Linked DNA regions of Homo sapiens. The protein of the gene in region 1 purifies or fractionates together with the protein of each later gene. This does not show direct contact. Each region holds a gene or a part of one and is shown on either strand. Other genes may lie near its edges.

Region 1 (7,173 bases):
CACCGTAGTAAAGAATCTGTTACACTTTACCCTAGATACTTAAATTTCCTCATAAAGCTACAATTACTGATACCAAGAATTCCTCCAAATAAGGGTTGTGGTCAGACTTTAGCTTGAGCTAGCACGACAACAAAACTTCAAGGCTGCAGGTAACAAAACAAAACCCTGTCTCAAAAAAAAAAAGAGTAGGCAGAAATTAGGCATAGGCCTCAAACACTGTTGCTGGCAGTTTCAACTCACAAAACGTCTTCAAAAAGCAATTAGTCAACATCTACCAAAATGTTAAATATGTGCAATGTTTTGATGCAGCAATTCCACTTCTTCAGAAATACTCAACACATATACACAAGGATATATGTACAAGGATATATTCACTGCATCATTGTAAAGAAAACATGAAATAATAAAACGCCCATCGATAAAGTCCTGGTTAGATAAATCACCGTATCCAATCACTGGAATACTATGCAGCCATGAAACAATGGAACAATCACCAATATAATTTAGTGAAAGAAACGAAAGTGCAGAGGAGTGAATATAGTTTATTATCATTTGCACTTAAAAGGGGATTAGATTTATAGTATAGTCACACACATGCTTGCCATGCAATAGAGTATTCTGCAAGACTACACAAAAAACTGGTAACAATGGCTGCCCCTTTTTGTGCTGTTGAATCTTTTCATTTTCTTCTAGTCATGTACATACACCCTTTTTAATATTCAAAAAGCTATCTGAAGCCTGGCCTTGTGGCTGACTCCTGTAATCCCAGCATTTTGGGAGGCTGAGACAGGAGGGTTGCTTGAGGCCAGGAGTTCCAGACCAGCCGGAGAAATAAAACGAGACAACTGTCTCTAAAACAAAAATTTTTTTTAATAAATGTTTTTAAAAAGCCAGCTAAGGAACACAATTTTACGAATTATCTGTTCAAAAACTGAGTTGGCTTGTGTTAATTTCTTTATTGCTACTGATAATAACTGTGAGCCCATTCCAAGATTTGTAAGGCTTTGCCAAACTCAATGTCTTAGAAGTAGCTCATTTAGGAATTCTGAAAAGTACCCAATTTTAAATGTGAACTATTTTCTACAGAATCAAGGATAAATATCAAGGATAAATAATACCAAAGATGAATCTATATGAAAATGAATTTGTTATTTATTTTGTGAAAGCAAGCCTTTGGTTTAATCATTTAGAAACTCTAGCGTCAATAACAGACCCCTAAAATTCACTAATCAAGATTCACTAATCAAGGACCCTGACTCACTGCTGGGTGAATGAGTAAGATTCTGACATCACCTTACTGAGACGGACGTTAGTGTAACAAAAAATAACATCAGGTGTCCCCCACGCCGATCTGCCACTTGGAAAAAGTATTTAACACAAAGAAATGGTTCAAGAGCTCAGGATGTTTTTCTCTCTATTGATATAAAGATATAAAATAGAACAATTTGGATGAAAAATCATTCCAGAGTCCCAAGTAACATTTGGCTACTGAACTCCAAGTAATTCTGTGTCACAGGAGGTTAAAAAAAAAAAAAAAAAAGGCATCTCCACAAATCCGAGGTACCAAGGCCCCTTGGCAATTATAAACGGTCAGCTGAGCACCATATGGCAAAGCAAGCCTCCCTTCAGACAGTTATCACTTGGTGGCTGATTAATTTCAATGGCTTATTAGATAGGCCTCTCCAGACCCCTTCCCAAGAGGAGGAGTCGGGTTGGGGGACCTGTGTCTGTTCTCTTCCCGGTGCTTTGTGTCTTCCAGGCTTGAAAGCATCCCGGTGATGGTGCTGCCATCATTTCCCTTGGGGGTAGAGGGTCTTTTCTGAAAGTGTTTGTTCACCCGTTCGGAACCTAGAATTCCTTTGGCGCTTTGCCTTTCCGCTCGCTCCAGCCGGGCGCTGCCCACCAGGTGTCCCACTGCAGACCTCTCCCCGCGACACCGACGCCCACCGCAGCTCGCCCCTTCCCCCCGCGCGCGCAAGCCCTGGCCAGGTGGCCGCGGCTTACCGGTGGGCGCGCTGTCCAGGATGCGGAGGTCGTAAGCCCCGGAGCAGCGGTAGTTGGCAGCTGTGCCGTTGTCCCACACTACCACCACCTCCTCGGGGCTCTCGAAGCTCCGGACGGTGCCCACATGGCCCTCGCCGCCGTCCTGCTTCCCCCACTTCCAGTCCGGGCCGCGCACTACCCGAGCGCCAACCCCTTCCACCATCACCCGGTTATTCCGGGAGTTACTCATCGGGGCCCGGGCGGTGGGCTCCGCCGCTGCCGCCGCCGCCGCCGCCGCTGCCGCCGGGGGGCCCGTGAGGGAGTTGGGCCCGGGCCGGACTCTAGGCGTCGGCGGGGGCGGCAGCGAGCCCCGGGGGACGTGAGAATAACTCACGGGGGCGGCGGCGCGGTCCCCGCGGAGCCCAAAGCCGCTGCCCAGCTGTCGCCGCCGCGCCCCCCGCTCGGAGTGGAGGGCGGCCCGCGGCTGCTCGGAGGCGGCGGCGGAGAGCGGGCAGAGGGGAGGGGGCCGTGGGCGGGGACTCTCCCGCTTCCTCCGGGCTCCCCGGCCAGGCTACAGCGACGGCCGCAAGGAAACCACGCTCTCCCCCGGCCGGCAGCGCGAGGAGCGCAGGGGGCCGGGGGAGGCTAGCCCGAGGGGGGCGGCGGGGAGCAAGCTTAACTGCCGGCCTTTCTGCCACCCCGGCCCCTCGCTCGGGGGCGGGCACCCAAGCGCCGGCGCCGCCTCCTCCCCCGTGGGCAGCGGTGGTACCTCCCGGCGTCCGGCGAGCGCCCGGGCCCTCAGGCCCCCTTCTCTCTGCCCCCGCACCAGCCGCCGCGCTCCGCCCCGCCACAGAGTCCCAGCCGGGCGAGAGCGACTCCACATCCGGGTACCGCCGTACCCAAGGCCGGAGCGGCACCTTCTCAGAGTGTCTAGGAGGGGGATCCTCGGCAATAATAGAGTGGGAAGGCTTCCAGAGAGCCGCGCGATCGCGGGAAGAAAGGAGGAGAAAACTGATCCCTAAGCGTCTCTCCAGGGTCCAAGGAGAGTGCGCATGCGCGCGGTCTAGAAAAAGGGCGGACGGTTGCCCAACCCCAGCCCCGGGCGATGGAGGGGCGGGCCCAGGGGCGGATCCCTGGAGTTGCCGCCCGGTGGTGCCGCGCGCCCAATGAGCTATGAGGAAAGCGGTTAGGCCGTCCTGGAGGCGGGGCTGGAGAAAGTGAGGGTGGGGAAGCTACCCGGGCTGCTGGAGCTGTGCGGCTGTGATGTGGCCAGTTTTTCACTAACTGCTAGTTTTCCTAGGCGAACTAAATGTGAATTAGGGATTCCATATTCTTTTAGTCTTCTTTTTTAACGAAGGTAGAAATACATTCACAAATTCAGGGCGATCTGTATTTGTGTGTAAATTGAAAACATTTCAAACCAGACAGAGCAGGTTAGTAGTGTGTTTTTAAGCTGAACAGCATGGTATGGAATGTTGTGAGCAACGGTAAAGACTTTTAGAAGGTGTGTCTTGACTTTATGCAGAATTAGGGTGATAGGCAGACTCCAAACTTTGCTCATTAATAATTGCCTCCACTCACGAAAAAATTCAGTCCCTAATTACAAAATACAACCTTCAAAGGAAGATTCGAAGACTGTAAGAGAAGTTTCTGGTTGCCGTTATTCAAATGACATTATGCTGCATAGGGTTTAAAACCAGTGTTTCCACAGGCCAGCACTGTTGGCACCGTTAGCATGCATTGTTAGCATAAACTGTTGCTTTTCCTGATAGTCAAAGGAGGGAAATGCTAACAGAATGGATAATCAAGGGAAAAGACAAGAAAACGGACGTAAAATGTACCCAAGGAATTACTATGTACTGAAATAAAATTTTTTTTGTTTGGTTTTTTTTGTTGTTGTTTTTTTTTTTGCTTTGTTTTTGAGACAGGGTCTCACTGTCAGCCAGGCCGGAGTGCAGTGGCGCCATCTCCGTTCCCCGCAACCTCCGCCTCCTGGGTTCAAGGGGTCCGCCCACCTCAGCCTTCTGAGTAGCTGGGACCTCAGGAACGCACAACCACGCCCAGCTAATTTTTTGTATTTTTGGCAGAGATGAGCGGGGGGGCAGTGGGGAGCTTCTTGGGGGATATATCTCACTATTTTCCCTGGCCGGACTGGTCTCGAACTCCTGAGCTCAAGCAATCCTCCCACCTCAGCCTCCCAAAGTGTTTATCCCAGGGATAAAGCCAACTTGATAGTGGTGGATAAGCTTTTTGATGTGCTACTGGCTTCTGTTTGCTAGTATTTTATTGAAGATTTTCGCATCGATGTTCATCAGGGATATTGGCCTGAAATTTTCTTTTTTTGTTGTGTCTGTGCCAGGTTTTGGTATCAGGATGATGCTGGCCTCGTAAAATGAGTTTTACGAAGGAGGGAGGATTCCCTCTTTTTCTGTTGTTTGGAATAGTTTTAGGAAGTACAGTAACAGCTCCTCTTTGTACCTCTGGTAGAATTCGGCTGTGAATCTGTCTGGTCCTGGACTTCTTTTGGTTGGTAGGCTATTACTTATTGCCTCAATTTCAGAACTTGTTATTGGTCTGTTTAGGGATTCGACTTCTTCCTGGTTTAGTCTTGGGAGAGTGTATGTGTCCAGGAATTTATCCATTTCTTCTAGATTTTCTAGTTTATTTGCGTAGAAGTTTTTATAGTATTCTCTGATGGTAGTTTGTATTTCTGTGGGATTGTTGGTGATATCCCCTTTATAATTTTTTATTGCATCTATTTGATTCTTCTCTCTTCTTCTGCATTAGTCTGGCTAGTGGTCTATCTATGTAGTTGATCTTTTTCAAAAAAACAGCTCCTGGATTCATTAATTTTTTTGAAGGGTTTTTCGTGTCTCTACCTCCTTCAGTTCTGCTCTGATCTTAGTTATTTCTTGTCTTCTGCTAGCTTTTGAATTTGTTTGCTCTTGCTTCTCTAGTTTTGTTGGTTTTTTTTTTTTTTTTTTTTTTTTTTTTTTTTTTTTTTTTTTTTTTTTTTTTTTTTTTTTTGAGATGGAGTCTCACTTTGTGGCCCAGGCTGGAGTGCAGTGGTGTGATCTCAGCTCACTGCAAGCTCCATCTCCCGGGTTCACGCCATTCTCCTGACTCAGCCTCCCGAGTACCTGGGACCACAGGTGCCTGCCACCATGCCCAGCTAATTTGTTGTATTTTTAGTAGAGATGGAGTTTCACCATTCTAGCCAGGATGGTCTCCATCTTCTGACCTCGTGATCCGCCCGCCTCGGCCTCCCAAAGTGCTGGGATTACAGGCGTGAGCCACCGTGCCCAGCCTCTCTAGTTATTTTAATTGTGATGCTAGAATGTTGATTTTAGATCTTTCCTGCTTTCTCTGTGGGCATTTAGTGCTATAAATTTCCCTCTACACACTGCTTTAAATGAGTCCCAGAGATTCTGGTACATTGTGTCTTTGTTCTCACTGGTTTCAAAGAACATCTTTACTTCTGCCTTAATTTCCTTATTTACCCAGTAGTCATTCAGGAACAGGTTTTTCAGTTTCCATGTAGCTGTGAGGTTTTGAGTGAGTTTCTTAATCCTGAGTTCTAATTTGATTGCACTATGGTCTGAGAGACTGTTTGTTATGATTTCCATTCTTTTGCATTTGCTGAGGAGTGTTTTACTTCCAATTATGCAGAATAACCAGCTAGCCTCATAATGACAGGTTCAAATTCACACATAACAATATTAGAATTTTAGAATAAGTGCGATGTGGTGCTGAGAAGAATGTATATTCTATTGATTTGGGGTGGAGAGTTCTGTAAATGTCTATTAGGTCTGCTTGGTCCAGAGCTGAGTTCCAGTCCTGGATATCCTTGTTAATTTTGTCTTGTTGATCTGTCCAATAGTGACAGTGGGGTGTTAAAGTCTCCCACTATTATTGTGTGGGAGTCTAAGTCTCTTTGTAGGTCTCTAAGAACTTGCTTTATGAATCTGGGTGCTCCCGTATTGGGTGCATATATATTTAGGATAGTTAGCTCTTCTTGTTGCATTGATCCCTTTACCATTATGTAATGCCCTTCTTTATCTCTTTTGATCTTTGTTGGTTTAAAGTCTGTTTCATCAGAGACTAGGATTGCAACCCTTGCCTTTTTTTGCTTTCTATCTGCTTGGTAAATATTCCTCCATCCCTTTATTTTGAGCCTATGTGTGTCTTTGTACATGAGATGGGTCTCCTGAATACAGCACACCAATGGGTCTTGACTCTTTATCCAATTTGCCAGTGTGTGTCTTTTAATTGGGGCACTTAACCTGTTTACATTTAAGTTTAATATTGGTATGTGTGAATTTGATCCTGTCATTATGATGCTAGCTGGTTATTTTGCCCATTAGCTGATGCAGTTTCTTCATAGCGTCGATGGTCTTTAAAATTTGGCATGTTTTTCAGTGGCTGGTACTGGCTGTTCCTTTCCATGTTTAGTGCTTCCTTCAGCTCTTATAAGGCAGGCCTGGTGGTGACAAAATCTCTCAGCATTTGCTTGTCTGAAAATGATTTTATTTCTCCTTTGCTTATGAAGGTTAGTTTGGCTGGATATGAAATTGTGGGTTGAAAATTCTTTTCTTTAAGAATGTTGAATATTGGCCCCCACTCTCTTCTGGCTTGTAGGGTTTTTGCCGAGAGATCCGCTGTTAGTCTAATGGACTTCCCCTTCTAATGGGATTCCTTTGTGGGTAACCCGACCTTTCTCTCTGGCTGCCCTTAACATTTTTTCCTCATTTCAAGCTTGGTGAATCTGATGATTATGTGTCTTAGGGTTGCTCTTCTCGAGGAGTATCTTTGTGGTGTTCTCTGTATTTCCTGAATTTGAATGTTGGCCTGCCTTACTAGGTTGGGGAAGTTCTCCTGGATGATATCCTGAAGAGTGTTTTCCAACTTGGTTCCATTCTCCCCGTCACTTTCAGGTACACCAATCAAACATATATTTGGTCTTTTTACATAGTCCCATATTTCTTGGAGGCTTTGTTCTTTTCTTTTCACTCTTTTTTCTCTAATCTTGTCTTCTCACTTTATTTCATTGAGTTGATCTTCAGTCTCTGATATCCCATCTTCCACTTGATCGATTCAGCTATTGATACTTGTGTATGCTTCACCAAGTTCTTGTGCTGTGTTTTTCAGCTCCATCAGGTCATTTATGTTCTTCTCTAAATTGGTTTTTCT
Region 2 (7,028 bases), on another chromosome or scaffold:
CATTTCTCCTTGCCTGCAGCTTCTTGGCTGAAAAGTAACCTTGCTATTGCTCTTAATCTAATGACAATATCTCATTCATTTTATGATTTCCCTGCAAGGGCATTACTACACAGCTATTGCTGTAAGCAAATAATAAATACCACCAGTGAATTTTACAATTCTGAAAGTTGTGACAAACACATGCATATGCACATAAAAAAGGTGGAGGCCTGGTATGGTGGCTCACACCTGTAATCCCAGCACTTTGGGAAGCCCAGACAGGGTTGGTGGGGGAGGGAAATCACTTGAAGTCAGGAGTTCGAGACCAGTCTGGCCAACATGGTGAAACGCCATCTCTACCAAAAAAAAAAAAAAAAAGATACAAAAATTAGCCACGCGTGGTGGTGCACGCCTGTAGTCCCAAGCTACTCAGGAGCCTTAGGCACGACAATCGCTTGAAGCTGGGAGACAGAGACTGCAGTGAGCTGAGATTGCACCACTGTACTCCAGCCTGAGAGAAAGAGCAAGACTCTATCTCAAAAAAAAAAAAAGAAAGGTGACAAACTATGTATTTAAGTTCCCTTTACAGTATCACCTTTTTATAATATCATATTTCATTTAATCTAAAGTACATCCTTATTTTTTGTGCCACTAAGAAAGAAAAAAGCTATTAACTGATGACTCTCCCCACTGATTATAACATGGTTCTGATTTCAGAGACGTTCAAATGTGGAAAACCTGTACCTCCTGTAATTAATTAAACATGGCATTCAAAACGTTAATTTACCTGAGCCCCATCTCAGATCAATTCAACAAATTGCTCAGGGTAGGTCAAGGAATCTGTAGTTTGTTAAAGCTTCTCAGATGATTTTGGTTAAAGACTAAGTCAACTGTCAACCTTCAAAGGCAGCACAGTAGAGAAAGCACGCACTTTGGAGTCACATAGCCCCACACATCTCTGTGACCTACAGCAAATTCTGTTAATTGCCCACAACCTCAGCATCTCAGCTTTATCTGTTTAAAAACAAACAAACAAAAAACAGTCAATGCCACCGACTTCCTATGGTTGATAAAAGAGAACATATGTAAAGTACCTGGCATACAGCAAGATACGCTCTTCCTCCTCCTCCCTAAATTACAGGTGATCCCTAACTAGAGACTTGTGTGCTGTCTATTCCAGCTTAAAATTTATATAAGAATGAGAATGAGGCCGGGCAAGGTGGCTCACGCCTGTAATCCCAGCACTTTGAAAGGAGGCCAAGGTGGGTGGATCACCTGAGGTCAGGAGTTCAAGATTGGACTGGCCAACATGCTGAAATCCCATCTCTACCAAAAATACAAAAATTAGCTGGGAATGGTGGTGGACGCCTGTGATCCCAGCTACTCAGGAGGCTGAGGCAGGAGAATTGCTTGAACCCAGGAGGCAGAGGTTGCAGTGAGCCGAGATCATGCCATTACACTCCAGCCTGGGTGACAAGAGCAAAACTCCGTCTCAAAAAAAAAAAAAAGATAAGAATGAGACCTATGAAATCCACTCAGCATTATCACTGCTGAACACACAAAAAGAATCATTCAACAACTGTTTATTATGTAACTGAGCAATACACACACGTTTATTTTGGCACATTTTAAGAGGACCTTCACAAATGAATGCTGTTTAATAAAATTTTTATTAGAAAATATTGCACTTGATTTACATCAACAACGCACAAAAATGTATACCTTTAAGTGTGACATAATTTTAGAGTAGCTAATGGTTCTGTTTCATGTACAAGTTTTTGTTTTGCTTTAGGATGTGTAGCTGGCAAGATTTTTCAGAACATTGGCGTAACTGCATCAAAACACCAAAAGTAATGCTATGGAACTTCTCAACTCAGGTGCCTGAATAAATACTCACATGTTTGATTTGTCCCAAAAGTGATTCTTAAAATCCAAACAGCATTTTAGGCAGCACCTTTGGAATTGACCAGTCAACTCAGGATGTGACTCACAGGGGACAGGTTTAGCCATAATTGGATAGAGTTCTCTCACATGTGTAGCATGAGGAAAAAAAACAACCCTCAAACCCACAATTGCACAATGTCTCTGCCTGTCTCCCAATGAAGAACACATGGATTCAAATAAATACCAACTCCACCAAAACGCCTAGGGTTAAGGATTTGCTGCAGAGTGCTAACCTCCCAAAAACCCACCCAGGATCTGGGCCCTCTGGCAGGTTATGCCAGACTCATGGGCAGAGGACACCTTCAACCCTCCACCCCTCCTCCCCACCAAGCATGGGCTCTGAGATTTAGGAGAGAGGGGTGCTGGGAGGAGAGGAATACATGGTTCATCTCCTTTTTCTTTCCCTTGACCAACCACTTCTCCCAAAAGGAAAGGGTCCTTTGGTTCAGTTGCCCAAATCTGAAACCCTAGATTCCTCTGTGACTCCTCCCCTTTCTTTAGCCCTAAAGTCTCTTCTACTAAGTCTTCTCCAAACTCACCAAATTCCTCACAAATCCATCCCACCCCTTCAACTGCCTTAGTTGATCCCTCTTATCATCACAAGGTTGGCTCTATCTCATTTCCCAGATCCAGCATTTCATTCTCCAAAGCCATCCTTTTCACTGGGGCCAAAGTTATCTTCCCTATAACCCAGACCTGACTGCGCACTCTCCTAGTCTGCATTCTTTAGCAGCTCACTGAAGAATTCACCTGTAAGAGTTCAAATTCCTACTCTAACCTCAGCCTACCTTCCAGCTTTATCCTGTGGCGCTCCATGGCTTTGCTAATTTTTCACCTCAGCCACATTAGATTTTTCCTACCCCACAATTTCACACAGCTGCTTCCACCCTCTATGTCTTTGTTCACACTACTTTCTCAGCCTGGTATGAACTGCTCTTTTCTGCCTATCAAATTCATCCTTCAAGATGAGGCTCAAATGTCTTTTTTTTCCCTGGGACAAGTTTCCTAAACTCTCTAAGCCTGTCTCCCCTCCGCCCTTTCCACAGTCAAAAGTAAGTGCTCCTACAATAACTTATGTCAACCAGCAATATAACTCTTATCTCTGTTACAGTCATAAATGCAAGTCTCCCCTACAAAATTCTGAGATCTTCAGGGAAAGGAGTGTAATAATTTTGAATTGTCATTTTCTACCACAATATATGGTACTTGGTTTAGCTTCAAAAAAATTTTCTGGACTGATTTGGGACACAGTGATTTCAACTAGTATTGACTTGATTTTAAATAAAATGTGAACATTCTTGACTTTTCCAGAAGATATTTATTTTAAGAGGAGAAGCAAGTTATCCAAAGTTAATTTCTAACTGGTGGGAGATGGGGCCTCTTCCCAAAAGTCCCCCTGACCCCTATCACCACCACCACTGTTGGCATAACCAGTTTATACCATTCCCCACCCACCCACCAGCATGTTCTTCCCAAGCTTCTGGCACTGCCCAGCCATATGCCACCTTCACAGGCTCCGGAATTCCACAGAGCTCAGTACAATGAAAATTATCAATTAAAGAACATGGGAGGATGCAAGAATAATTAGCATAATAATAAAGACCACAAACAAGCACCTGTGGCAGGAGGCTTGCGGTTCTACTCTTTGAGTTTTTGGTTAATTGCACTCCTCCAGAGCTGATAAAGAGACAGTATGAATTCAGGTCTCAGGCAGGACTGAGTCAAGACCTGGCCTTCTACTCACTGTCCAAAAGGCCCTGAATCAGGGTCCTCATCAGTAAAATGCAGAAATGAATGCCTACATTGCAGCCTGTTATGCAAGTAACAGGCTTGTAAATGCAAGCGATGAACCAGGGCCCAGGAACACAGGAAGGCCAACCAGAGTTTAAAAGCTTCTGAAGCTTTCGGTGTTTCAGAACTTATACACTTCCATCAGGACCGTGTGCCCTACTACTACCAAAAAACCAGGCTAGTCATTAATACATACCTACTCTAAGATTATTGTTTTCTCATTTCTCTGTGTCACCCCAAAATTTCTATGTTGAAATCCTAACCACTAAGGGATGGTATTAGCAGGTAGGGCCCTTTGGGAGGTGATTAGCTCATAAGAGCAGTCCTCATGAATGGGATTAGAGCCCTTATAAAAAGACCCAGGGGAGCTCGTTTGCCCCTTCCACCATGTGAGAACACAGGGAGAAAGCAGTATCCATAAACCAGGAAGAGGGCTCTCAGCAGATATCAAATCTACCAAAGCCTTGATCCTGGACTTCCCAGCCTCCAAAACTGTGAGAAATAAATCTCTGTTGTTTACAATCCACCCAATTTATGGTACTTTGTTACAGCAGCCTGAGCAGACTAACACTCATCTATAAAATGGAAATGACAGTACATAACACAGGGATGACCTCTATGCCCCACACAGACAAAAGACAGCACTTTTAAAAGTGTCAACTACTACTACAACCACCATTAACTACTCGTAATATTGTTCATATAAAAAGACTGCCACACGTCATCTTCAATAGTTAAACCCAAACCCTAACTGCCATTTACACATTGTGGAATGACCATAATCCCTTACCTCCATTTCCTTCCAAAATTCCTCTAAAATGATAGTTTAAAAAAAAAAAATCACAAAGACATCAAACCATAAGGACAAACAGAAAAGGAAAGACAACATGCTTTTTTAAACAAACTTTTGCAAGATGGCAAAGTACTTGAAGGAATGGTCACTGCCCCTCAGGACCTCCAAGAGGCTCAGGTCTTGAGGCACCAAGGAGATGCCAAAGGCTGATGTGAGGCTTAGCCTAGACAAGGGGGGAGCCACCGAAAGAGGTGTTCAAAGCTTTTGGATCCCCAGTTCCAGCAGGAAACCCAAAGTTTTTTCTGAAGAAACTGAATCACAGTGACAGGAGAACTGTAGCCAGAAGTCGAAGGCTACAGCCTCCATCCCTCCCTCAGCCAGGTAACCCAAACCCTGGCAGCTGGCATATCACCAAGCATACCAGAGGCAGGAGATGATGATTTCTTCATTGTGAACACTGGCCCCAAACGAGATGTAAAGGTGTTGATATTCGGGGCAGACTCCCAATGAAAAGTCCACCTGAACTCACAAGTCACTAGACCACCAATACACACATGTTCTCTCCTCTGCAATCAGCTCCTCAGGATCTTTTTCTTCATTATAGACAGTCAAGGATCACCAGATATTTATGACTTAAACAAACAAAGAAAAGATCCCTGAAATGAATAACCACACTGGAGGAAACAGAAGAAATATTAAAAATATATTAAACACAAAGAAAAAATAAAAATACACACATCAGAGATAAGTAAAGATAATACATCCATAAAATAAGATGCAATGAAATGGAAACAGAAAAAGATTCTAAAATTTAAAAACATGATCATTAAAATTGAGAACCATTCCCCCCCTCCCACTCCTTCCAGTACAAAGAAATACGTAAGACATGAGATTAGTTAAGAAAATTTAAAGATCATTTGTAGTGGGTTCAACAACCAAACCAACAGACATCTCAGAAAGAAATACACACACACACACACACACACACACACACACACACACACAGAGAGAGAGAAAATAAAGGGTGGGAATTATTAAAAAAAAAAAAAGCATTTCTGAAAACTAAAAAGAGTCTCTAGATTGAAAGGACCCACTAAGGTAATACAAGAAAGAAAAGGAAGAAAGGAAGGAAAGAACCAACCAACCAACCACACAAAAACTTATAAAACTTCAGAATGCCAGAGAAAAAGAACCTGAGCTTCAAAAAAACAGAAAAAAAGAGGCATCAGAATGGCTTTGGACTTTTCATCAAAAACCCTTAAGACAGAAAACTGTGAATATGCCATCAAAATTATGAAAAAATGTATTTCTACTTAATATTTTAAATTCAGCCAAACCATCTATAAAGTATGAGGACAGGATAGATACATTCAGACATTCAAGGCCTCAAGTAATTTATCTCCCATCATTCCTTCCTAAGAAGCTACTGAGGATACATACATAGTAGCAAAATGAAGCAAACCAAGAAAAAGGAAGACAGGAGATCTAAAAAACAGAGGTTCCAAGACAGGAAAGAAGTAACAGGAAGTCCCAGAAAAAATAATCGTACTATCTAGATTGGAGCAAGAGGATGGAATGCTCCAGACCAAGAAGTCTCTAAGAGGAAACCAAGTGGCACTGATAGATGATTTAATGTGCTACCTGGAAAAAAAAAAAATCAAAAGGCATTTAACATACTTCTTGGAGTAGTTGAGGGAACACAGCCAAAGATAAATAGGTAACGAATCAAAACGCAATTTTGATAAAATGCAATTATTTGCTGTGGGAAAAACAAAAATGTATAAAAAAAATCATAAGTCACTATTTAGCAATACCTGTGTACACAATAATGTAAATACTGCTATTTTTACAAAAAAGTTACGTAACTACATTGGAGGATTTAAGAGAGAAATGAGAAAGAGCTCAGTTATGATACTAGAAAGTCAAAGACTTATTCTACATTGATTTAGAATGACGAAAGTAAAAAAAGAGGAAGAAAAAATAAACAGACCTAGCTGAGGTAGTAGCTACCCCTGGAAAGTAGAGCCTGAGGGATAAAAAAGACAAAAGCAAGAGCCTGCTGTGTTTGTCAAAAGTCTTTTAAGCCGGATGCGGTGGCTCACACCTGTAATCCCAGCACTTTGGGAGGCTGAGGTGGGTGATCACCTGAGGTTGGGGGTTTGAGAACAGCCTGACCAACATGGAGAAACCTCGTCTCTACTAAAAATACAAAATTAGCTGGGCATGGTAATGCGTGCCTGTAATCCCAACTACTGGGGAGGCTGAGGCAGGAGAATCGCTTGAACCTTGGAGGCAGAGGTTGCGGTGAGCTAAGATCATACCATTGGACTCCAGCCTGGGCAACAAGAGCGAAACTCCGTCTCAAAAAAAAAAAAAAGCCTTTTGGTTCTCTTAAAACTATATGCATATATTAACTGGATTAAAACAATTTATTCTCATATCAAGGGTAATTAGTTCAATTTATAAAGTTGTCACTATCAACTTCATTTATAAGTTTCTTACTTGGAACTCTAAACTGTCT

What was found. The genes of interacting proteins can lie anywhere in the genome.
Region 2: the proteins of MIB1 (region 1) and RYK purify together in Homo sapiens (affinity purification with mass spectrometry; 2 studies listed by BioGRID and IntAct, with this or other methods). This does not show direct contact.

Annotation. Positions count from the first base shown.
Region 1 is NC_000018.10:21,736,644-21,743,816, reverse strand, and holds the start of MIB1 (E3 ubiquitin-protein ligase MIB1), read right to left. Parts: upstream 3,026-7,173; 5' UTR 2,234-3,025; coding exon 2,005-2,233; intron 1-2,004. UniProt on the Homo sapiens protein: E3 ubiquitin-protein ligase that mediates ubiquitination of Delta receptors, which act as ligands of Notch proteins.
Region 2 is NC_000003.12:134,240,833-134,247,860, forward strand, and holds part of RYK (tyrosine-protein kinase RYK isoform 2 precursor), read right to left. Parts: intron 1-7,028. UniProt on the Homo sapiens protein: May be a coreceptor along with FZD8 of Wnt proteins, such as WNT1, WNT3, WNT3A and WNT5A. Involved in neuron differentiation, axon guidance, corpus callosum establishment and neurite outgrowth.